Homo sapiens: one gene and its partners. The protein of the gene in region 1 purifies or fractionates together with the protein of each later gene. This does not show direct contact. Each region holds a gene or a part of one and is shown in the gene's direction. Other genes may lie near its edges. The genes, in order: MINDY4, IFT57, CTR9, ANAPC1, PJA2, IFT172 and PPP6C.

Evidence for each region.
Region 2: the proteins of MINDY4 (region 1) and IFT57 purify together in Homo sapiens (affinity purification with mass spectrometry, with the first as the bait; one large-scale study listed by BioGRID). This does not show direct contact.
Region 3: the proteins of MINDY4 (region 1) and CTR9 purify together in Homo sapiens (affinity purification with mass spectrometry, with the first as the bait; one large-scale study listed by BioGRID). This does not show direct contact.
Region 4: the proteins of MINDY4 (region 1) and ANAPC1 purify together in Homo sapiens (affinity purification with mass spectrometry, with the first as the bait; one large-scale study listed by BioGRID). This does not show direct contact.
Region 5: the proteins of MINDY4 (region 1) and PJA2 purify together in Homo sapiens (affinity purification with mass spectrometry, with the first as the bait; one large-scale study listed by BioGRID). This does not show direct contact.
Region 6: the proteins of MINDY4 (region 1) and IFT172 purify together in Homo sapiens (affinity purification with mass spectrometry, with the first as the bait; one large-scale study listed by BioGRID). This does not show direct contact.
Region 7: the proteins of MINDY4 (region 1) and PPP6C purify together in Homo sapiens (affinity purification with mass spectrometry, with the first as the bait; one large-scale study listed by BioGRID). This does not show direct contact.

What each region holds. Positions count from the first base shown.
Region 1 is NC_000007.14:30,886,417-30,889,651, forward strand, and holds part of MINDY4 (probable ubiquitin carboxyl-terminal hydrolase MINDY-4), read left to right. Parts: intron 1-2,683; exon of another isoform or gene 2,684-3,235. UniProt on the Homo sapiens protein: Probable hydrolase that can remove 'Lys-48'-linked conjugated ubiquitin from proteins.
Region 2 is NC_000003.12:108,194,925-108,198,424, reverse strand, and holds part of IFT57 (intraflagellar transport protein 57 homolog), read left to right. Parts: intron 1-3,500. UniProt on the Homo sapiens protein: Required for the formation of cilia. Plays an indirect role in sonic hedgehog signaling, cilia being required for all activity of the hedgehog pathway.
Region 3 is NC_000011.10:10,768,246-10,771,745, forward strand, and holds part of CTR9 (RNA polymerase-associated protein CTR9 homolog), read left to right. Parts: intron 1-97; coding exon 98-246; intron 247-1,964; coding exon 1,965-2,081; intron 2,082-2,241; coding exon 2,242-2,387; intron 2,388-3,299; coding exon 3,300-3,371; intron 3,372-3,500. UniProt on the Homo sapiens protein: Component of the PAF1 complex (PAF1C) which has multiple functions during transcription by RNA polymerase II and is implicated in regulation of development and maintenance of embryonic stem cell pluripotency.
Region 4 is NC_000002.12:111,769,194-111,772,693, reverse strand, and holds part of ANAPC1 (anaphase-promoting complex subunit 1), read left to right. Parts: intron 1-218; coding exon 219-353; intron 354-1,559; exon of another isoform or gene 1,560-1,633; intron 1,634-3,287; coding exon 3,288-3,403; 3' UTR 3,404-3,500. UniProt on the Homo sapiens protein: Component of the anaphase promoting complex/cyclosome (APC/C), a cell cycle-regulated E3 ubiquitin ligase that controls progression through mitosis and the G1 phase of the cell cycle.
Region 5 is NC_000005.10:109,375,475-109,378,974, reverse strand, and holds part of PJA2 (E3 ubiquitin-protein ligase Praja-2), read left to right. Parts: coding exon 1-771; intron 772-3,500.
Region 6 is NC_000002.12:27,451,744-27,455,243, reverse strand, and holds part of IFT172 (intraflagellar transport protein 172 homolog), read left to right. Parts: intron 1-583; coding exon 584-677; intron 678-825; coding exon 826-890; intron 891-1,081; coding exon 1,082-1,262; intron 1,263-1,504; coding exon 1,505-1,614; intron 1,615-1,730; coding exon 1,731-1,860; intron 1,861-1,973; coding exon of another isoform or gene 1,974-2,006; exon of another isoform or gene 2,007-2,107; intron 2,108-3,500. UniProt on the Homo sapiens protein: Required for the maintenance and formation of cilia. Plays an indirect role in hedgehog (Hh) signaling, cilia being required for all activity of the hedgehog pathway.
Region 7 is NC_000009.12:125,169,304-125,172,803, reverse strand, and holds part of PPP6C (serine/threonine-protein phosphatase 6 catalytic subunit), read left to right. Parts: intron 1-787; exon of another isoform or gene 788-856; coding exon of another isoform or gene 857-895; intron 896-1,623; coding exon 1,624-1,719; intron 1,720-3,500.

The sequences.
Region 1 (3,235 bases):
CCTGCAAGAACCCCCAAGCCACACAGCTGGCTGTCTGGCAGCTTGCTTGGCTCTACAGAAAGGCCTTTGGGCACCCCCTGTTATCACCTCTTCTTTTACAGACAGGGAGATGGGGGCCTCCAGAATGGAGGTCCGTGTCCCAGCCACACTTTGAGTCACAAGCTCCAAGGACTGTGGCTTACGCTTTTGCTGTCCCAGCCCATTGGAAGGTCACTTAGTGGGCAGTGACTTCCCACCACCTGGCTTTGTTGCCTCGGTGACATTGCACAAGCCCAGACTGCTGGTTTCGCCTTCAGAGAAGAGCATCCTAATTCAAACCATCCCAGACCCCATGTGTCTCTGCGCTTTGCTGTGACGCAAACCTCGGCCTGAGAGAGTCTCCTGTTACCTTTGCTTGTGTCAGGAATGTGGGATCTGTCCCCTGCCCCCTCCCACTGTTATACTGTAACCATCTCAGCAAAAAAACAGGCTAATTTATTATGGTCATTTCCAAACGAGACACACACAGTGACCTCTCTCATGCTTCCAGCCTGGCTAGAGTGAGAAAAATGAAACGGTTGTCAACAGTCCAGAGAAAAGAGGAAAGAACTCATAACCGGAGCCTGGGGCTGGGGCACAGATGTTTCTGTTCGGAGGTGCAGACAAGAAATTGAAAATGTAATTCCAGCTGGGTATGATGCCTTCGAGGGGCAGAGGCAGAGCCCCCGCCTCCCTCAGCTACCCCCACTCCCTGCGGAACCTCCCGTTCAGCTTCCATGCTGACCATTTTGCCCAGGCTCCCTGTCCACAGTGCCTCCCACCCATCGGAGGAGCATTCTCTGGGCGCTGTCACTCCCCACTGTCCATGCCAGCCCTCTTCTGATGCCCTGCCCCCCACACACACCTGCCCTGTGCTGGCTCTGCAGTCATCAAGCTGTGTGAGCTCCAGAAGGTCTGGTTCTGCTCCCAGCCTTAGTTTCCCCATCTGTCCCTGGGGTCTAAGGATCCCTCTCCTGAGCTGCTGTGAGGTTGAGAGAAGAGCTGTGGAAGCACTGCCTTTCCTGTGAGCCACAATGGCCTCTGGGCATGCGTTGGGGAGGAGGAGGAATCAGGTGGTGGCAAGTTGGGCCAGGGCTCAGGAGCAGGCAGAGAGGAGAGTGCAAGGCAGGGCTTTGAAGCGTGAGCCAGCGAGGACCATGGTTTCCCTGCTGAGTGCCTGGGAGGGCGGGGCCACTCCCTAAGCAGGCGTCCAGGAGGAACAGCTGGCCTGGTGGGGGTCGTGTTCATGCAGCAGCACCCCCACCTGCCACCTCCACCTGGAGCCCAGGCTGCAGGCACTGGTTAAACCAGCTTTGCCTTGGAGCCTGGCCTGGGTGCTGACGGGGACCCGCGGGTGGCAGTCAGAGAACACTTCTGCAAAGAGGAATCTGGATCTGATCCTGCAGGATGGCGGACTGGGCAGGGCCCAGCAGGGGTTAAGGCCCAGGGGTGAGGGATACCCACGTGGCTCATCCTAGAGCTGCTCCTCATTCCGAATGGCTGGAGCACGGGAACGGAAACTTTCACACAGGCCTATTTGTCTGGAGATTTAAAGCATACAAGAGGCGTCCCTGGATGCTTTTCTACCAGTCAGGAGCTTTGAACTCAGGCCTGCTGTCTTGTCCTGGCTGACACAGGCTCTATCAGGCACCTTTTTCCCCATGAAAAACACTGGGTCCATCAACGTTGAAAAGCAGTTAAGGCAGGTAACCACCCCTCTGTTGCAGTGATGCCTCTGGGGGGACAGGGCCTTATTTTCCACCATGAAGTGCCTTTCTCTGTGATTTTAAGTTGACTTGAGCACCAGGGACCATGGTGTTTTTACGGAGCGAGTGGTCTCAACGGGACAATTGTGTGCCCCTGGGGTTATTTGCCAATGTCTGAGGACATTTTTAGTTGTCACAGCCCTGGGAGAGGATGCTAAACATTTCATAATGCACACCACGGTCTCCACAACAAAGAATTACCCAGCCAAAATGCCTTAGGTACCGAGGATGAGAGACCCGGCTATAAACTGGCTGGCTGTCAGCCGCCTCCTGCATTAGCACTGATGAATGAGTCTGGAACTTTGATTGTGTCTCTTCTGCTCCTCAGAGGTGTTTCCATTTCATCCCTCCCCTTTCTGTGCCTGTCCGCAGTTGTTGGTTGCATATGCAGAGCCCTTCTTACTTGTCCTTGTAATCGACTCACAAGCTTTCAGAACCATTCCAATCGGGGAACGATTCGATTCGTCCCCTACACTAGCACAACATGCGTCATGGCTCAGCCCTTTCAATTTTTAAAATGTCTCTGCTTTGATTTTCTATTGTAATTGCAAACTGCTTCCCTCTGGTGTTTCCAGTACTCTCCCTGCATTTGCCCCTGTTGGCTGGATGGAGCGGGTTGGTTATGTCTGTAGAAAGCCTCAAAACCAAGCTCAAACTCAACAGCCTGATAGTAAGACTCAGCCACTGTGGTGACACAGATGTTGTCTAGTGGTAGATGAGTGTGACTCACCCCTGCACTGAAGCAGCTTGCCAGGATTCAAGGAATTTGTAACTTGGGAGCTCATACGAGGTACTTCAGTCTTTCTGAGTGGGGAGGGTAAAGGCTTGAAAAGATAGAGAGGGGCGGGGTGAAGGGGCCTGGGGACCAGGCTGAGAGCAGGCATGTTGCTCTCCTTCCTGCCTCCCTTCTGCCACCCTCTGGGAGTCTGGATTCAGGATGTGTTCCTTAGTGTCCAAGATTTCAATGCTTGCCCACAAATCTTAATAGAACAATAAAAGCTTTTTAATGACACACTCCAAACTGCAAAGATGATGAACAGAACAAGAAAATTGAAAATCTCAAATGCTCATCGTGTTGCTGCAGATTGCTAAGGTGCTTTTAACCCAGCAGATGTAATAGATGAACTCAGTACCCAGGAGCTGGGGTCAGCACAATGCCTTCCCAGCCTGCTTACCTCCAGAACCTGCTCAGTTGTATAAGCCAGAGCAGTGGCCATTTTCCTGCTGGTTGGACCTATATTAGCCAGTATAGGACATCATCAGACTCCACCCCCAAATAGTATCAGCAATGGGCACTCACTGCCGAGGAGAAGTCTGACTTCACCAAGCCAAGCCAGTTTGTCTCCAAATACGGCACCAGTGTCTCTTATTTGAGCAGTGAAGATGAACGCTCTGATATGGATAAATTCCATCAAAGTGGCTCAACCCCAAAACCCAATAGACTCCTCTGG
Region 2 (3,500 bases), on another chromosome or scaffold:
CCAAACATGAGGAGTGACAAGTGTTATAGTTTGAAGTAGGCATAATTAAGCATGACAAGAAAATCAAAAACATAAAATACAAATCTGAATGCATAAAAATTAAAACTTTATATTACAAGAAAGCAGAGTGGGGAACACCGTTAAGTTAAAATACAAGTGATGAACTGGAGAAAAATAATTATAGCCTATGTGCAAAGGGTTGATAGACATGTGCTAAGGTGTTTTAGAGCTTGTGCTCTAGAGTAACACTGCCTGACCTACCAATCACAAGATGTGACATTGAAAAAGTCATGTAACTATTCTGTGCCTCAGTTTCCTCACTTTAAAAGATGGTAATAAGACTCCCTGTTTCATGGTGTTATTATTGGGCATTTAACCCATATGTAAAAGCATCTAGTACCGTGTTTGGCATGTAATAGTAATGATAATAACTGCTAAAATATACCAGGGGTTAATATGTATTATACACTGTGCAAGCCTTTTAAATACATTGTCTCATTTAATGCTCACAGCAACCCTTCCAATGAGGAAGGTGCTGTTATTCTCATTTTACAGATGGGTACTCCGAGATTTAGAGAGGTTATGTAACTTGACCAACAGCTAGTAAGTCATGGAGGTGGGATTTGAGCAAAGATGTGATTCCAGACCCATCCTCTTAACATTTACACCATGCTGTTGTGACTCTTAAGACAACTTAGTTCCCTTTTCCTTGAGTCTTGGGAGTATTTAATCTTGAGAGTTAATTGGACTTTTAACACCCTCTCAGTAGGTATATGATATAAGCTCTTCAAATGAATCTGGACACTAGTATATCCATGAAGTTGCCATCTCATGTATATTTTTACAGAACATAGCCTTTCTTTGATGCTTGACCAAAGATTACTGGAACAGGATTCTAAGTAGGCTTTTAACACTGTATGTTTGATTCTTGAACTGACTTCGATGGTGTGCCCCACTGTTTGAGCCCAAGGTTACTTTATGGGATAGTGTAGACTGTTATTTTCAGTTCTTCCTTTGGCAGTTAGGATCAGTTCCCATCTCATCAGTTTCTCCTTTTACCTAGGACCAATTATTACTCCCATTAACTGGCCTCAGACTTTTCCTAGTAGTCTGCAAACTCTGCAGGCAGCATTTAAATCCTTTTAGCTTTCCACACCAAGCACAGTGCCTGAATTCTTACCTTGAATGTTGTAGGAGTTTAACAAATGGCTTATTAATTTAATTAATTATAAATGAGACTTCTAGATAACTTGTGTCTTATGAGCTTCTAATTGTTTCTTCTGCAGCAGTAACTGGAAAATGGAATTTCCCAAAAGCAATGCTTTATATTAGTTAATGTGTTAGAGAGGGACTTTGTCATGATGATATAAAATTTTGATTAAATGAAAAGCAGTTTATTTCTCTTGTACAAGTGACCCACATAAAGTACCATTTATGAAATGGAAAAACAATTGGGAAGAAAAATTTTCTCAAAGTATTATAACCAAGGCACAGTATAGTTTTAAAATGATTTATACTTTATATATAGGGCTTGCTCAGTTAATGTATCAAGTTATTAGGCATTAAGAAATGTTGAGTGAGGAATGAGGTTATGAAATAGATATGCAAACATGGATGTAGAAAGAAACTGTATAGTTTGAATAAGTTAATGCTGCTCTGCCAAACCTAATGTTCTCTTTTTGCCCTTTATTCACTTAGCAACTGGGCCATTTCCCCTAGTATATTAATTATGGCCTACGAGTGAGTGAAAATTTTTGAGCTCCTATGTTAAATCATTTTAGAACATTGGGAGTGGGAGTTAGCAAATCGTTGCTTAAGGGAACCAAATAATAAGCTAGTAAAGGTAAATGCAACTTACTAAAGGGCCCAACATAAAAACAAATAGCTTATGCAGTGGCATATCTTAATGCAGTGTTTGATCTTTATGTACCCTGCTGCCTCAGATTCTAGGTCTAGTTCAAATGGCCACTGCAAACCCATCTGCCTTTATGAAAAATGCCCTTCCTTCAGTAAAACATTTTGAGTATGTTATTCACAACTTGAACAATCCTACATCCAGGCCTGAAGAAAGTGGTAGTATGGACGGGTGTGCGCCCTTGTCTTGTTTGGTGATTCTGAACTTCAATCTTGTAAGGAGGGAAAGAAAGAGGGGTTGGAAATGAGGGTGGAAATGAGGGTTGGAGAGCACTGGCTTTGGGATTTAATCAACAGCATCTAGCTTCAGTTCACCCAAATGGTACTCCATAAATCAAACTTATTTTTATATATTTTTTATTTTTTTATCTTTAGTTATTATGAACACATAGTGCATATTTATGGGGTGTATGTGATATTTTGATACAAGGCATACAATGCGTAATGATCAGATCAGGGTAATTGGGCTATCAATCACCTCAAGCATTTATCATTTCTTTGTGTTAAGAACATTCCCGTTCCACATTTTTAGGTATTTTGAAATATATAATACATTACCGTTAATTATAGTTGCCCTATTGTGCTACCGAACACTAGGTCTTATTTTTTCTATATAACTAATGCAGTTTTAAATAACTATATTTTCATACCCAATAACCATTCACTTTTTATCCCTCCTCCCCGCTACCATTCTCAATCTCTGGTAACCATCATTCTACTCTCTACCTCCATGAAATCTACTTATTTTTACCTCCCACATATGAGTGAGAACATGTGATATTTGTCTTACTGTTCCTGGCATATTTCATTTAACATAATGACCTCCAATTCCATCCATGTTGCTACAAATGACAAAATTTCATTCTTTTTATGGCTAAATAATATCCCATTGTGTATATATACCTTGTTTTCTTTATCCATTCATCCCTTGATCAACACTTAGGTTGATTCCCTATCTCGGCTATTGTGGATAGTGCTGCAGTAAACATGCGAATGCAGATTTCTCTTTAACATACTGATTTCCTTCCTTTTGGGTATATGCTCCGCAGCAGCATTGCTAGATTATATGATAGATTTTTAGTTTTTTGAGGAACCTCCAAAGTGTTCTCCATAGTGACTGTATTAATTTACTTTCCCACCAACACTATACAAGTGTTCCCCTTTCTCCATATCCTTGCCAGCATTTGTTATTGCCTGTCTTTTTGATAAAACCATTTTAACTGAGGTAAAATGGTATCTTGTGGTTTTGGTTCGCATTTCTCTGGTGATTAGTAATGATTAGTGATCATTTTTTCGTATAATTGCTGGCCATTTGTATGACTTGTTTTGAGAAATGTCTCTTTTTGATCTTTTGCCTATTTTTTAATTAGATCATTTGGGTTTTTTTCCTACTGAGTTGTTTGAACTTCTTATATATTCTGATTGTTAATCCCCTTTCAGATGGGTAGTTTGCAAATATTTTCTCCCATTCTGTGGGTTGTCTCTTCATTTTGTTGATTGCTTCCTTTTCTGTGCAGAAGCTTTTTAGCTTGACATGATCCCATTTGTCCATTTTTGCTTTGTCTATCTGTGCTTTTGAGGTCTTA
Region 3 (3,500 bases), on another chromosome or scaffold:
AAATGTGATCAATGTAGTTGTTTTAAAATAGAATTTTTAGTTGTTTTTCTGACTCCAATTAGAAAATTGTTAAGTGTGAACCTTTTTATATCTTTAGGAGCTGTTTTGGCCCACAAAGGATATTTTCGTGAAGCTCGTGATGTATTTGCCCAAGTAAGAGAAGCAACAGCAGATATTAGTGATGTGTGGCTGAACTTAGCACACATCTATGTGGAGCAAAAGCAGTACATCAGCGCCGTTCAGATGGTAATAGCTTCTCTTTCAAGATATTTTTATATCTTGTTCATTGTTAAGCAGATGTTTTCTTAGCCATTCTGGCCCTGTCATGGAGCTGCATGCTATCTCTTGTGATACTGTGTCTATTTAGAGATTTATAATTATATAATGCTAAGGCCAGGCTTTGGTATCCAGACAGAGATGTGAGTCCTGGTTCCACCACTAATTACATGCCTCAGGCAAAGGACATCCTTTCTGAGCCAGTTTTCCTATCTATAAAATGGAGATAATTGTACCTTAACTTCATAGAATTTTGTGAGGATCCCGTATGAAAACTACTTGGCACTAGCATGCCTAGCATATTAGTAATACCCAGTAAGTAGTAGGATTGAATATTTATTTGTGTATTCAGTTTCTGAAACTGAACTGTGAGTTTTAGAAAGGTTAAATGACTTATTTAAAAGAAAACAGGCCAGGCATGGTGGCTTACTCCTGTAATCCCAGCACTTTGGGAGGCTGAGGCGGCTGAGGCGGATGGATCACGAGGTCAGGAGTTCGAGACCAGCCTGGCCAACATGGTGAAACCCTGTCTCTACTAAAAATACAAAAATTAGCTGGGCATGGTAGCACGTGCCTGTAATCCCAGCTTACTCAGGAAGCTGAAACAGGAGAATTGCTTGAACCTGGGAGGCAGAGGTTGCAGTAAGCCAAGATCCTGCCACTGCACTCTAGCCTGGGCGACAAAGCCAGACTCTGTCTCGGGAAAAAAAAGAAAAAAGAAAACAAAACAGCGATAAGATTTAATGACTGTAGAATTTTTTTATGCTTACATTTGTTGAGTGCTTGAGCTCGAAATAAAAGTCATACTCAGCATCCATAAAATTAAAAAGTAAAAAGGATCTTCGGCTCTGTGGGATATATTATGGTCAGAAAGGAAAAGCTTACAAAAAGTAGACAAAAAGAGCAGTCCAGGCTCCTGAGAAGTGGTTTACCTTTTTCTAAAATGGGTGGGTTATTACCAATATTCAGAGTACTGGAAAGTCAATAATCACAGAAACTCACAGAACCTAGATTGCATATGGAGCTTCAGAGGTTGTGTTTTGTGAGGCTGGCCTTCCTGATCTGCTGAATGATAATGTTGTCTTTTATAAATGCAAATTAACTACTAGGGATATTCAGGAAAAAATGGTCTTAACCATTTTTCATGAAAAAGGTCTTACCTATGACAAGAGGTATTCCATGGTCAAAAAGTGCTATGTTCATGTCACAATTAACACTAGTATTGTATTGGTTTTACCAAGAAGTTAACAACCAGAACTGTAAGACTCCTCATGCTCATTGCCAGTAGGTTCTGCCCATTGTTAAGAAAGGTGTAGATGGTAAAACGCAAAGGACAACGGTGTATGACTTCTCATCAGTGGTCAATAAGCTGATTCTAGATAGTATTGCTAAAAGTATGAAAAAGGCTTTCCAGTCTGTTTACCCTTTCTTTCAATGTTGGTCCAAATTTCAAATGGAAAGAAACCATTTCAAGCATCTAGTTTTTCTAATGGTCAGATTTTTTATGTTGTGAAAATGTATCCTGATGAATGTCAAAAATCATTCCCCAAATTATTCTCTGAAATTAACCATTCAAAGGGTAAAACACCTTTTTACAGAGCTTTAAAATTGCAATGCCATTTTGCTACAAAATGAAAATGTCATTTATTCTTTGTTGTGTTTTAATTAACTTTTTTCTTTTACTGTAGTATGAAAACTGCCTCCGAAAGTTCTATAAGCACCAAAACACTGAAGTTGTACTCTATTTGGCCCGGGCCCTCTTCAAGTGTGGCAAGTTACAGGAATGCAAACAGACTTTGCTGAAGGTAAAAAGGAGAGATGTTATTCCCATCCATTTCTGTGCTACATTGTATTTTTTAATTCTTCGTGATGCGTGTTCACATACCTACTACTTAATAATACTCTGCTGTCTAAGATCCTTTTCATGTCATTTGAACATATGAAATATTTATTTTTTATTCACAGGCTAGACATGTGGCACCCAGTGATACAGTTCTTATGTTTAATGTGGCCTTGGTCCTGCAAAGATTAGCTACCTCTGTCCTGAAAGATGAAAAAAGTAATCTGAAGGAAGTACTTAATGCTGTGAAAGAACTGGAGCTTGCACATAGGTAAAGATTTTGTAGAAACAACCTATGAAATGCTTTATTTGGTCTATGACCATACCATCTTGAACTCTCCCGATTTTGTCTGAAATGCTTTGTTTAAAGCTATTTGTCTCAAGCTGCTGAAAATCACTTCCTTCTAAAGGTGGTCTATTAGAATCATTCCAGCAATAGTTAAGCCAAAGCAGATAGCAGCTGCCACCAGGTGGTGCCAAACTATAGTCAGGATCCTGCCAGATTTGGATCTTGTAGCTTGACCTCTAGAACTGGCTGGCTAGCTTTGCAAACTTGCCATAGATTTTTTATTAATCTGACAGTAATGTGACCCAGCATTTTACACATGTGAAATTTTTTGGACACTTACGTTGGTCTTCCATTTTACACCAATGTGTCTTTTAATGGGATGTTGATTTTCATTGAACTAGGATTAAGGTTTTACTTCTTAAATAATGCTTAATAGTTTTATTCAGTTCAGCTCAAAATTTATTTAGCCATATAGTATTTATATGGTGAGTCAGTGTGTGGTGAAATTAAAACCTGTCATCTCTTCAGGTTTTGTCCAACTTAATATTTTTATTCTTGTTTAACAATTCTTGCCTTGCCTGGTAAATTATAAGTGCTTTCATGGCCTGAGCCCCGTAACCTCCATCCTGACATATTTAGTAAATTTCATGTTTAGTAAATACTTGTTGCTTGAATTGCTTTGTGGTTATTTGTGAATTTACTGATAATATTAAATATAACTTAGACCATCTTGATGAACGTGTCTATTAAATGTAATGAGTGGCATAAATTTGTGTAAATCAGTCAATATGCAAACCTTTTCTCAGACTTTGTAGCACAGATTAAATTTTTTAAGAGCTTTATTTCATTAGAATCTCTTTTTTTAAAAGTGAAGTATTTTCTCGTTTCATTTAGATACTTCAGTTATTTGAGTAAAGTGGGAGATAAAATGAGATTTGATTTGGCCCTTGCTGCTACAGAAGCCAGGTAATGTTACTATTTATGGAAGGTGACTTTGGGTGAGGCAGTGATATTTACATGGGCTGGGAAAGTGCCACAGTAGGGAACAGAGGTTCCTGACCTTCCACAGGTCAGTCTTTCACACTTCTCTTGGGG
Region 4 (3,500 bases), on another chromosome or scaffold:
ATTATTTGTGTAATATCTGTCTCCCCCAACAACACTCTAAACTCTACAATGACAGGGACTCAGTCTAGCTTGTCAGAGTAGCCTCAATACCGGCTATAGAACCTGCTTTATATATGCTGAGCGTTCAATAAGTTCTTGATGAAAAAGTAATAGAAGATATTTCTTGTGCCTCTCAGTTCTGTCATCAGTTGGTTCCGTTCCATTTGTTTCTCTCACAGTCGGGGGTGATATGTGTGTGCACGCCTACCTCAGCGGGCAGCCCTTGGAGGAATCACAGCTGAGCATGCTGGCCTGCTTCCTCGTCTACCACTCTGTGCCAGCTCCACAGCACCTGCCACCTATAGGACTAGAAGGTAATTGCATATCTAAGTCTTATCTTCAGTAACTCTGTTACCTACCCCTTTATGTTCTAGTTTCTCAGTAGTTACTGCCCCTAGTTTGACTTTCCTCTTCATTAATGTTGCAGTGTCATTGTTAGGGACTGTTTTGGAGCAAAAAAGAAAAAATTATCAACTTTATATATGAATAACTTTCATTTTTATTCAGAAAAGGATGGATTCTTCTTCACAGAGCCCCAAACACTGATCTATACTAATAAACTAAATATTCCATATTATTCTTTACTAATTGATTTTTTTATTAAAGCTATTTTTCTTTATTTTCTAGGTTTTCAGTTGGGTTTTTTAGAATCACATATAATCTTAATTTCTAATATTACAAAGCTTTACAACTAATAAATACCTAATTTTGTGTTTGAATTTTTTTATAATAGTTTTAAAAATTAATAGTATTATCACCTGATTGTATTTTTCAGAATATAGAAACAGATAAAAAAAATTTATCCATTAAGCTGAATACTAAGATATGATGAATTCTAAGCACCCAATTTTTTTGAGATTCTCAAAAAAAATATTTTTTGATAAGGGCAAAGATTGTTCCATTTAATCATTTAAACTTGAAGTTTAATTACATTACTAGTTTTTTGCTGTTTTGCAAGCCTCTGATAAAAGTTTACTATCTAGAGACTTCTGGTTATGGCCATGATGGAATTGCTTGTATTGGACTCACTTGCCCTCAAAAACAAATATAAAAGCTAAAAAAAAAAAATAAGAAAAGGGAAGTACAACAGGGAGAGCTTTATATTCACCCTAGCTTCTCCCCCAAAGGCATTTGCCAGTTCATAGTACAAGAAGTAGAGTGCCAGCAAAAAGCAGCAATGCTGCAGGGCTGAGGAGCCAGAGGTTGGGTTTGTGATTGCCCAAGAGCCTAGAACTTGAGGAACACAGTCTCAGGCAGGAGAGAACAATAGAAATCATAACTCAGACTCTGGATATACCTTTCCCTTGAGTTACTTAATGATATTTTAGCCTTCATATACATGGGATAAGACTTCAAGAGATCTAGCAGAAGCCACAAGGCCAAAAATGTAAGCAAAAATGTCAGCAGCAGCATAGGACTGAGGAGACAAAGGGTGGAATTCAACGCTTGTTAAAGTGAAGTGGCTCTGATCAGCATCCCAGCTCCTCAGGTGAATTAATACATGGCCAAGCCCTAAGCCTGCTCTAGCCTAATTTTAGATCTGGTCTGCTTCAGTTTCACTCCAAGCAGACTTGACCTACAATTAGCCTAGAGCAGAACTAAGGTGATCTGTGTGCTTTCTCCCCACCTGACAGAAGAAAATGTAACCTTCATAGGAGAAAGAAAACATACCCAGAGCCCCCGCAATTTTTAGTCTACAGGATTCAGTGTTGAATCAAAAATTACGAAACATAATAATAATAAAAAAACAGATAATAGAAACAGACTTATGTGTGATTCAGATATTGGAGTTATCATACTGGAACTTAAAATAACTATGTCTAATGTTTCCAGGAAAATAGAAGGAATGATAGGGAATTTCACCAGAAACCTGGGGTCAATAAAAAAGAGTTAAATGGAAATTCTAGAACTGAAAAATATAGTAACTGAAATGAAGATCTCAGTACTGGATTATTTGAAGTGAACTGGAAGACACTTATCTGCTGGAAGACAAGTAGAAAGTAAACAAACTGAAGCACAGAGGGAAGAATGGTTAGGAAATACAGAGAAGAGTACAAGAGACATGTGGAAACCGTGAAAAAAAAATAAACATGCATGGGGTTGGAATAAGAGAATAAGAGGAGAGAAAAAATGAGTTAGAAGCAATATTTGAAGAGACAGAAGCTAAGAATTTTGAAAAATTGTGTTAAATATTAACCCACAGTGAACCCTAAGCAGGATAAATACAAAGAAAACCATACCTAGTCACATTAATAGTCAAACTACTAAAAGGAAAAGGAAGACATTTTAAAAGTATAGACTTCTTTTCAGGCCAGGCTGGACAAACAGGGTTGTTCAATGGTCAACTGTATTAGAACCAGTAAAATACCACTTAGATAGTATTTGAAGGTAGACAGGCACTTTTGCACATTATATTTAAAGAATTTATATATATATATATATATATATATATAAAATTAAACAATATTAGTAGTTTCACATGTAGTTATAGGTCACTTTCTGAAGTCTAGAATGGGTAAATTCTATCAAATCATATACAGGTTTGAGTATCCTTAATCTGAAATCTGAAGTGTTTGAAATCGAAAACGTTTTGAGCACCAACATGATGCTCAGAGGAAATGTTCATTACAGCATTTTGGATTTGGGATTTTTGGATTAAGAATGCTCAGCCGAGGCTGGGCGCAGTGGCTCACGCCTGTAATCCCAGCACTTTGGGAGGCCGAGGCGGGCGGATCACGAGGTCAGGAGATCGAGACCATCCTGGCTAACACGTTGAAACCCCATCTCTACTAAAAATACAAAAAAAATTAGCTGGGCGTGGTGGTGGGCACCTGTAGTCCCAGCTACTCGGGGGGCTGAGGCAGGAGAATGGGTGAACCCAGGAGGTGGAGTTTGCAGTGAGCCGAGAGAGCGCCACTGCACTCCAGCCCCGGTGGCAAAGTGAGACTTCGTCTCCAAAAAAAAAAAAAAAAAAAGAAAGCCAGTAGGTGTAATGCAGATATTCCAAAATCTAAAAAAATCCAGAATCCAAAACACCTCTCTTCAGAAGCATTTTGGAAAAGGGATACTCAATTTACATTACAGTGTATTAAGGAATTTCATAATTTTAAATATTGTCTTTGCATAGTCATTTTCAAAGGGAAAAATGCCTGTTTTAAACATGATTGTGTTTCTGAAGCTTCCTTGAAAGGAGAGGTATGGCTGAATTTATTTAGAGATGTGACCTTCCCACCCCATTTCCATTTTAGGGAGCACAAGCTTTGCTGAACTGCTCTTCAAATTTAAGCAGCTAAAAATGCCAGTGCGAGCTTTGCTGAGATTGGCTCCTTTGCTTCTTGGAAATCCACAGCCAATGGTGATGTGACCGTGTCTGGCGGTGAACCTACCCTGAAACGTGACTTCTGCACAACAAACGTGACCAAACATCAAAGCTAAAGCAATGTTTATAAAGTTTTATGGTA
Region 5 (3,500 bases), on another chromosome or scaffold:
TGGCAAACATGGAGAAGATAATGACCATCTTCAACTTTCTGCAGAAGTCGTGGAAGGTAGTAGATACCAGGAATCATTAGGCAATACAGTATTTGAGTTGGAAAACAGAGAGGCAGAGGCATACACTGGTCTTTCACCACCAGTTCCCTCATTTAACTGTGAAGTAAGAGATGAGTTTGAAGAGTTAGATTCTGTACCATTAGTGAAAAGTTCTGCTGGTGATACTGAGTTTGTCCATCAGAATAGCCAGGAAATTCAGAGGTCTTCTCAAGATGAAATGGTTAGTACGAAACAACAAAATAATACTAGCCAGGAAAGACAGACAGAACATTCACCTGAAGATGCAGCCTGTGGTCCAGGGCATATTTGTAGTGAACAAAATACCAATGATAGGGAAAAGAACCATGGAAGTTCTCCTGAACAGGTAGTGAGGCCAAAAGTTAGAAAACTGATAAGTTCAAGCCAGGTGGACCAAGAAACAGGTTTTAATAGGCATGAGGCGAAACAAAGAAGTGTTCAAAGATGGAGAGAGGCTTTGGAAGTTGAGGAAAGTGGCTCAGATGACCTCTTAATAAAATGTGAAGAATATGATGGAGAGCATGACTGTATGTTCTTGGATCCACCATACTCAAGAGTTATTACACAAAGGGAAACAGAAAATAACCAAATGACATCAGAAAGTGGAGCCACAGCAGGAAGGCAAGAGGTGGATAACACCTTTTGGAATGGCTGTGGAGATTATTACCAACTCTATGACAAAGATGAAGATAGGTAAGGTCACATCCAGTACTTTTTCCGATTGTGTAGTAAATGAAGTGGTTTCTTTCTAGAACCATGTTTGATGGCTGGGCTATTTGATATGATCAGGGAATTAGACATTTTGACTTACCAAATATTTTTATTTACTGAATGCTAACCATACATGCAAACTACTCATTAGAATTTTTCACAAAAAAATGTTTTTGAGGTTTTTAGTAGTTTACAGAAGTAAGTTCAGATAATGATTATTATTATAAAGGGATAGAGATGCTAGTTCATGGTATTTCAATTAATAAAATGTAAAATAAACATTTGTTGTATTTTTTAAAAACCTACATTAAGCCAGTCTGGGTTTAAAAAGTGATTAATATCACAAATTATTGATTGGTAATACTTCATTAACATTGCCAGTAGTGACTAATATCACTTGTTTCCCTCTTTATCTGTTCTTCCTGTGGCTCTTCCTATCACTAAGTTTATTTTTTACTTATTTTTTCTTAGCATTCAATTCTCATTAACAACTCTGTGTGGTAGATTCCATTATTTCCCTCATTTGTAAATAAGGAAACTGAGGCACAGAGCATTATATAACTTCCTAAGGTCACAGAGCAACTTAATGGTAGAGCTGGACTTTGAGTACCTAACTGGGTATTCCAGAGACTGTTCACCACTATTCTTTGCTATTTTCAACAGAACATAAAACTTATAATAAGCATTCTGATTGCTCTTACAAACCCGTATCTTTTTTTTCCAAACCATAAGACAACAGAAAAAGAAAAAAATGGAGAATTTCTTTGTTCAGTTGCTGAATTTCCATTACCCCAGTGTCCAGATTTTCATGAGTCCTTGTAAGCTAGTTGCATCCCTGACAGTGCTCAATTACAGTGCAATTGCAAGATTTTATTAGCTAGTGGAAATAATTGTGTGGTTTTTTTTTAGTTAGAAAGTACTATAAAGGAAGAAATTTACCATTTTGAATATGAATGCATTTTAATTCATGTCATAAAACAATTCATTTGATTTTCTTTGGACATATGAATTAAGCTACTATAATACAGATTGTGTAATTTATTATAGAAAATATTTAAAATATAATTTCTGCTGCTCTGTCAAAGTCTGTAAACTTTAAGGGTTAGTAAGTAATTTTTGTATGATATACTGTTTTTAAGCTAAAGGTAAAGTTTTTTTCAGTTCAAGCCCACAGTGTTTTATTCAGTATCCACACTTCTAAAAACAGAAATTGGCCACAAAGCCTGACCTGATGTTAACTTCCTGGATAAGCAGATCTGGATCTGAATTGAAATGAGGGTATTTTTTCAAATATTTGTATATTTTACTGCAGAAATATAGTTATGTTTGATTACTGTGTGTGGCCTGGACCATGTTGGGGTTTGTTAAGTAGTAGTTCTAAATCTGGGAAATATATATCAAAATTCCAAAACACATTTAGCCCTAAGATTTTGAAATAGATTGCAAGTCTCTAATATTATACCTCTAGGTTACTATTTTTAAAAAAAGACAAAACTTACAGTCTTTGATAATTTATTTTTTTGAAAGTGTAAGGTGCTTGTATTTTTTTTCCCCCAGTTACACTTTTTCTTCTTTAAGGAGAATCATTTAATTTGGCTATACCTTTGTCATTTTGGGCAAAATAAATACTTCTCTTCTGCTTGCTTTTTATAGTCAGTTATAATGTCTTATGATGAAGTTGATGAAATTGTTACATTGTTTGCCAACCCCTAGAGAAAGGTAGTCTTCCTGGCTCCTTGATTTTAAATTGATTTTCTTTGTTTTGGGGGTGGTCAGTGGTGGAAGTGTATTCTTTGCCTTGAAGGACCCTGGACTTTTCATAGTTATAAGGTATTTTCTTAGTTATTTGTAATTCTTATTCTTATTTTTAATTTTTTTCTTAAGTGATGTCAATATTCTGAACAATGATAGTTTTTTTTTTTTTTTTTTACAAACAATATATAGATGGGAAAAAACATTTACAGTTAATAGAAACTGTCCTTTTAAATTGCTAGTAATGTATTGACTACAGAGCCTGTGGTTAGGGTATGCCAAAATGATGGAACTACTTTAGGATCATTGTTTAAGACACATTGAAATGCTTAAAAGTTTCTTGTTTCGTTTTGTTTTAAAGAATCATAGAATAAATTCTAAAGGATAATGGTTCTGCCTAGGACTGTACTTATATTTTTATCCATAGCCTTAAGATATGTTTTACGATCTCAAAGTGTCTGTACAGTTTTCTGTACAGATTATTCTATTTCTGAACAGAAACTCTGTTTCTATGCTGCTGTGTCCTGTTCCTCTACCCTAATTCCCTGCAAAGGATTATAGTTGCCAGGGTGCCTTTTTAATATGGTGCCAGCTAAAGGTTGGAATTTAATAGCTGTACACTCCTATTTAGTTTCATTTTGCCCTTGTTCATCTCCCTGATGTTTCATTGTCATCCTCCCTAGTTCTTGTATTTGTAGATTGGAGAGATGGTGATGCTAGTCTTCTCAGGTTTTGGATGGAAAGTATAAGAGCTGCTGCTTAATTTGGGCCTGTGAACTTTGAGTTTTTTTGTAAAGCTTAAAAAGTTGATATACTTGAAAAGTTTTTTTTTGTCATGCTTATAATAGCCAAAGTAGAACTCATCAAGAATATAACTAAAGTTCATTGTGGCATTTTTATTTTTTTATTTTTTATTTATTTATTTCGAGACAGAGTTTCTCTCTGTTGCCCAGGCTGGA
Region 6 (3,500 bases), on another chromosome or scaffold:
ACAGCCTAATAAGGACCTGCCGTTTGCCTCTCTTTCTGGCATTGTTGATGCTCTTGAGCACATCAGCCAGGACATTCATGCGCACTATTGCGGCGGTGCAGAAAGATAGCCAAAAGAGCAAAGTGTTCTCAAGCTACTGTTATCAGTGCCAATCATGGAGTCCGATGCTGAGGGTGGTCTTGCTCATTTTTTGGAGAGACTCTGTTTCTGCTAATGTAGCTGGGGCTCAGGAAGAGATGGAGAGCACCAGGAGCCCTCCTAGCCCTGTCAGTGTAGGGCTGCGAGGCTCACTCCTCCCTTCCCCTTCGCAGGCCCAAACTAATTCCTCAGGAGCAGCTGGCCTCAGGGAAGGCATAGGCTTTTCCAGACGTCTCTTGATCCACGCTGACAGTGACATGGTCTTCACAGGGCTGCCTGCCCGTCTTCCTTTTTATCTCTCCACGCTTTTCTGTCACTTCATATTTGTTATCCTTAAATCTGTCACTTTTTCTCCCCTCAACTCTGTCCTTTCTCTGTTTTGTCTTGTTCCTTTTATGAAGGGAAGCATGAAGCAAGAAAACTTTATCTGCACTTTCTGTTTCAGCTCCTTTGAATTTGCGTTTGAACTCTCTCGGCTGGCCCTCAAGCACAAAACCCCCGAGGTTCATCTCAAATATGCTATGTTCCTGGAGGATGAGGTATGGGTGTGATTTGGACCCCGACCGCAGAGCCCTCTTATTCCATCCCCTAGTGCACTGCTGCTGGGTGTGCAGACCCCCAGTCTCATGCCTGCCTGTGATGCCAGTCTCCTTCTCATCATGCACGGCTGCCTTTCTCTCCCTGTAGGGTAAATTCGAAGAGGCTGAAGCTGAATTCATCAGAGCTGGTAAACCCAAGGAGGCAGTCCTCATGTGAGTTACCCCATACATTCCTTAATACTGTTTCCCCAGTCACCGTCCCAGGATCTTTCATGATTATCTTGACCTTCATTCAAACCTAGAACAAATCAGTGTTACACCCCTCAGTGACATGGCTGTTTGTCTCCCACTATTGGGGCCTCAGTCCTATACTCAGTCTCTCCTCTGTCCCCACCTGGAGGCAGGTTTGTCCATAACCAGGATTGGGAGGCAGCTCAGCGTGTGGCTGAGGCTCACGACCCTGACAGTGTCGCCGAGGTGCTTGTGGGACAGGCCCGGGGGGCCTTGGAGGAGAAGGACTTTCAGAAAGCAGAAGGGCTGCTGCTCCGGGCCCAGAGACCAGGCCTGGCCCTCAATTATTATAAGGTGGGGCACTGGATGCAGGGCCATGAGGGGAGGGGGAGAGTTTGTAAGAGCCCACAGAGAGCCACACTGACCCCTGGTATGAAGAAAGATCAGGGAGGTTAGTATTGGGGAGTGGGGAAGACAGGAAAGAGGAGGAGAAGAGAGGTCCAAGGACCCAGGAGTCTGTGGGCCAGAGTACCTGTGTGGCAGTGGGAAGCTGTCAGGCCTGCCTCTGCCCTCTTGATACCTGGAAATCTGAGCAGGAGGCTGGATTATGGAGTGACGCTCTGCGCATCTGCAAGGACTATGTGCCCAGCCAGCTGGAGGCTCTGCAGGAAGAATATGAGCGGGAAGCTACTAAGAAGGGGGCCAGGTATGAGGCCAGAGGTCCAGGCAGCATTGGCAGGGCTGGGAGGGTCATGAGGCATACACAGGATAGAGCATGCTGCCCCCCTACCATGCCAAGTCCCAGCGCTCTCATCTCCACAGGGGTGTGGAGGGATTTGTGGAACAAGCTCGACACTGGGAGCAGGCTGGAGAGTACAGCCGTGCCGTGGACTGCTACCTCAAAGTGCGAGACTCTGGAAACAGCGGCCTGGCGGAGAAGTGCTGGATGAAGGTGAGGACAGCAGGCCCTTTCTGGCCCTCCTTCTCCCTAGGCCTCTATTCACACTTGGCTCTGCTTCTCACATCTTCAGCTCTTTCCTCTTGTGTCTTTTTCTTTTCAATCAGGTAGCAGGAATCTATGGAGTGCCTGCTGGATGATAGAGCCAGAACCTCTGAAGGCTATAAAAGTGGATATAAGACAGAGCCCTGACAGCCAAAAGTTAGGGGAATTAGACCAATAAATGGCTCAATTACTATCATATCTGAGTAAAGACTAAAGTGCATGATTTAAAGTAGAGTTCAGAGAACAGTGAGATCTCTGTGGGCTAGAGGGGTCAGGAAGGCTCTGTGAAGAAGGAGGGAAGACTTGGACAGGAGCTGGAAGGGCAACTCCAGGCACAGGAACTGGCCAGACAGGGAACATGAAAAAAGCATGGGCTCCACCTCCCCCACCCAACATTTCCTGAAAAGAAGCTTCCAGCAAATTAAGCCAGGCCAGTATGTGTCACAAATAATAAGACATACTGTATTGGAGAAACCAACAGGATATATACAGTCATATGCCATATAACAACGTTTTGGTCAACAGTAGACCACATGGGTGGGCATGGTGGCTCACGCCTATAATTCTAGCACTTTGGGAAGCTGAGGTGGGTGGATCCCTTGAGGTGATCCCACGCCTGGCCTTAAATAGGTTTCAATACACAAATGCTTACCATTGTGTTATGGTTGCCTATAGGTAGTCAGTACAGAAATGTGCTGTACAGGTTTGTGGCCTAGGAGCAATAAGCTCTACGCAACCTCTACCTAGGTGTATAGTAGACTATACCATCTAGGTTTGTGCTATGATGCTTACATAATGATGAAATCCCCTAAGGACACATTTCTCAGAACATACTGATCATTAGACAATGCATGACTGTAGGTATATGTGTGTACATGTATATAAAGAGATTTATTAAAAGGAATTGGCTCATGCAGTTATGGAGATAGACAAGGCCCAAGATCTGCAGGTGAGCTGGCAAACTGAAAACCCAGGAGAACTGATGGTGTAGTTCTTGTTTGAAGGCCAGCAAGCTTGAGACCCAAGAAGAGCTGATGTTTCAGTTCAAATCTGAAGGCAGGAAAAAGCCAGTGTCCCAGTTTAAAGGCAGTCAAACAGGAAGAATTCTCTCTAACTTGGGAAGGAGCCAGCCTTTATGTTCTGTTCATGCCTTGAAATGATTGGATGAGGTCTATCCACAGTAGAGAGGGCAATTTGCTTTACTCAGTCTACCAATTTAAATGTTAACCTCATCCAAAAACACTTATAGAAACACCCAGAATAATGTTTGACCAAATACCCGGATACCCTGTAGCCCAAATTGATACATAAAGTTAACAATAACATATATATATATATATATACACACACACATACATATATATAATTATATTTTAATATATTTAAAATTGGGATGCAGGTATAGTTTAAATGACGCACCTTAGATACAGTGAAATGTGAGTGGGGGTCATGAGGGGGGTGAGATTGGCCCTCTAAATGACATATTCGTATGGTGATGCCCCTGCAAAATTTCCCTTAGGTTTTGAGGTTTTTTTGTTTGTTTGTTTATTTTGTTTGTTTGTTTTTTGAGACGGAGTCTTGCTCTGTCG
Region 7 (3,500 bases), on another chromosome or scaffold:
GATGTTCAGATTTCTTCAGTTTTACTTGTGTTTGTGTGTGTGTGTGTGTGTTTGTGTGTGTGTGTGTGTGTGTGTGTGTGTGTTTGTGTGTATTCAGTTCTTTGCAGTTTTATTGGGTAAGGGCTCATGTATCCAACTCTATAGTCAAAATACAGAACAGGTCCATCATCACAAGAATTCCTCATGTTGCCCTTTTATAGCCACACCCACTTCCTTCCTGCAACTGCTGGACCCCTGACAACAACTAATCCGTTCTCCATTTCTTTAATTTTGTCATTTCAAGAATGTGTAAACACGGCCGAGTGCAGTGGCTCAATGCCTGTAATCCCACCACTTTGGGAGGCCGAAGCGGGCAGATCACCTGAGGTTGGGAGTTTGAGACCAGCCTGACCAACATGGTGAAACTACTAAGAATACAAAAATTAGCTGGGCATGATGGTGTGTGCCTGTAATCCCAGGTACTTGTGAGACTGAGGCAAGGGAATCACTTGAACTGGGAGGCAGTTTGCAGTGAACTGAAATTGTGCTACTGGACTCCAGCCTGGGCAACAGACCAAGACTCTGTCTCAAAAAAAAAGGGAAAAAAAGAAGGTTATATAAATGGAATTATACAGTATATAACCTTTTGGGACAGTTTTCTGTTGTTTCATTTTTTTCACTCAACATAAATGCCTTGAGATGAATCCAGGTTGTTGTGTGGCAGTATTCGTTTCTTTTTATTGCTGAGTAGTATTACATGGTGTGGATGTACCAAAATGTGTTTAACCATTCACTCATTGAAGGATATCTGATTTGTTTTTAGTTTTGGGCTATGATGCATTAGGCTTCTGCGAGTATTTATATACAGATTTTGAACATGTTTTTATTGCCAAGACTACAGTTGCTGGGTCAAATGGTAAGTGTGTGGTTTGCAATTTATTTTTTAAATTACCAGATAAAAATCTTTTACTGGCTGGGCACGGTGGCTGACGCCTGTAATCCCAGCACTTTGGGAGGCTGAGGTGGGTGGATCACCTGAGGTCAGGAGTTCAAGACCAGCCTGGCCAACATGGTAAAACCCTGTGTCTACTAAAAATACAAAAATTAGCCGGGTGTGGTGGCACATGCCTGTAACCCCAGCTACTTGGGAGGCTGAGGCAGGAAAATTGCTTGAATCTGGGAGATGGAGGTAGAAGTGAGCCGAGATCGTGTCACTGCATTTCAGCCTGGGAGACAGAGTGAGACTCCGTTTAAAAAAAAAAAAAACAAAAAAACCCAAAAACCTTTTACTGTTAAAATTATTTCTTCATATATATATATATATATATATATATATATATATATATGTGTGTGTGTGTGTGTGTATATGTGTGTGTGTGTTTGGTGAAAAACATCATTTTACAGTTCTTGTAAAGCTGTCTGTCTCCTAGAACCTTAGTGTCTCTGTAGGTAGTTTGCATTGCATTAAGAATTCTGTGTGACAGCTGACAGAAATCCAACCCCCGAATTATCACAGGGTACTTTCCTATCAAAAAGTATACTTGGGTTTTGTAAGTATTAGACCTGGTATTTTTCTTTTTTGGTATTTTATCTTTAGTTTTAATGTTGTAGTAAATGTTTACCTTTTATTTTCTCTTTTTATAGCGGCTATGTGACTACGTTTGTGACCTCCTCTTAGAAGAGTCAAATGTTCAGCCAGTATCAACACCAGTAACAGTGTGTGGAGATATCCATGGACAGGTAAAATTTCATGAGCAGATTTTTAAGTTTTGTACTGTCCATGATCCATGTGTGTTTTCACATGTGCTGCAAAATTAAAACAACAACAACATCAACAAACACAACTGGTGGTAAGCTAGGTTGCCTCAGTCTCTGTGACACAAATGATTCCTGGTTTACATTTTTGGTGAATAAAAGCAGTGGTCAAATTAGTGATGGAATTTGTTGATAATTACATTTGTGAAGTGAATAATGCAGCATTAGTTTTCTGTGGAATGGTGGGGTTGGGGGTAGGTAGAAGATATAAAGTACAAACACATACTGCTCATAATAACTATGATTAACAGGAGATGTTTTGGTGTTAGGCACTTTTTTCATTCAGTTCATTTCTGTTCTCCTGTCATATATTGTTGAAAATTTATCATTTCTTTAGTGGGAATGAGAATAGCAAAGGTACAGAAAAATAAAATTGTTGGTCCATGATGTCACAGCAAATCACTGATGAATGAGCTAGAAAATATTTAGCTCAATTTTTCATCTGCTGGGTGTTTGTAAGAATTTCAAAGCAGTGCCGGGCGTGGTGGCTCACACCTGTAGTCCCAGCACTTTGGGTGGCTGAGGCGGGTGGATCGTGAGGTCAGGAGTTTGAGACCAGCCTGACCAACATGGTGAAACCCCGTCTCTACTGAAAATACAAAAAAATTAGCTGGGCATGGTGGTGCGTGCCTGTAATCCCAGCTACTCAGGAGGCTGAGGCAGGAGAATCTCTTGAACCCGGGAGGTGAAGGTTGCAGTGAGCCGAGACCGCACCACTGCACTCCAGCCTGGGCAACAGAGCAAGACTCTGTCTAAAAAAAAAAAAAAGAATTTCAAAGCAGTAACAGGAGGGGCATACCTCATATTTAGATTCTGTTGTCAGTGTTTAGTCTCATGTATATTTGTAGAATTTTTTCACTGGGAAATGAAAGCTGAACAGATTACTCATAGAGTGCTATATGCATACAGTGTAGTTGGGGCCATAAGACTTAATAATACATTGCAAACAATGTAGTCTTTAAAGGATGCCAACAGGACTTACTGTCACCTGTGCAATTTCCCTGCTTTAAATATGACTGTGTAAATGAGCAGAAATGTGTGTAAATTGACTCTGATTAGGGGCTGCTCCATGAGTAAAGTCTTGTTTTGGCTACTTACTTACAGGCTGATTTTCTTTTGGTTTTTCAAGGTGTTTTCTGGATTTTTTAGATTATAAAAAAATCTGACACTTGCATGTCATCACCTCCTAGATGGAGGTCCCATTATGTCATCTTTGATTGTTAAAATTACAGTTCTTTAGAGTAGACTTTAGGAATTGATTTCCTAAAATTTCCATGTAACTTCTCTCTCAAACATTTGTATTTTGCTAACATAAAGGATATTAATATAAGCAGTGTCTTAAGACATTCCTGAAAACTGGAATAAACCAAGTCATGTTTTCCCCCAGTGTAGTGTAGAAGTTTCTATGTAACTTCTCTCTCAAAGTAAACATTTGTATTTTGCTAACATAAAGGATATTAATATAAGCAGTGTCTTAACACATTCCTGAAAACTGGAATAAACCAAGTCATGTTTTCCCCCAGTGTAGTGTTTCCCCCAGTTGTAGACTTTTTAAGATGTGAAGTACAGCCATGATCAAAGGTCAGAAAGTTAGAGACCAACCTCGAACTACTAAAATTGGAAGCATAAAATTGAACTTTTGTATTATATATACCTTCAGTCAAATGTGCAGTTCTTGCTAACATATATCTTGTGTTTTGAGGTTA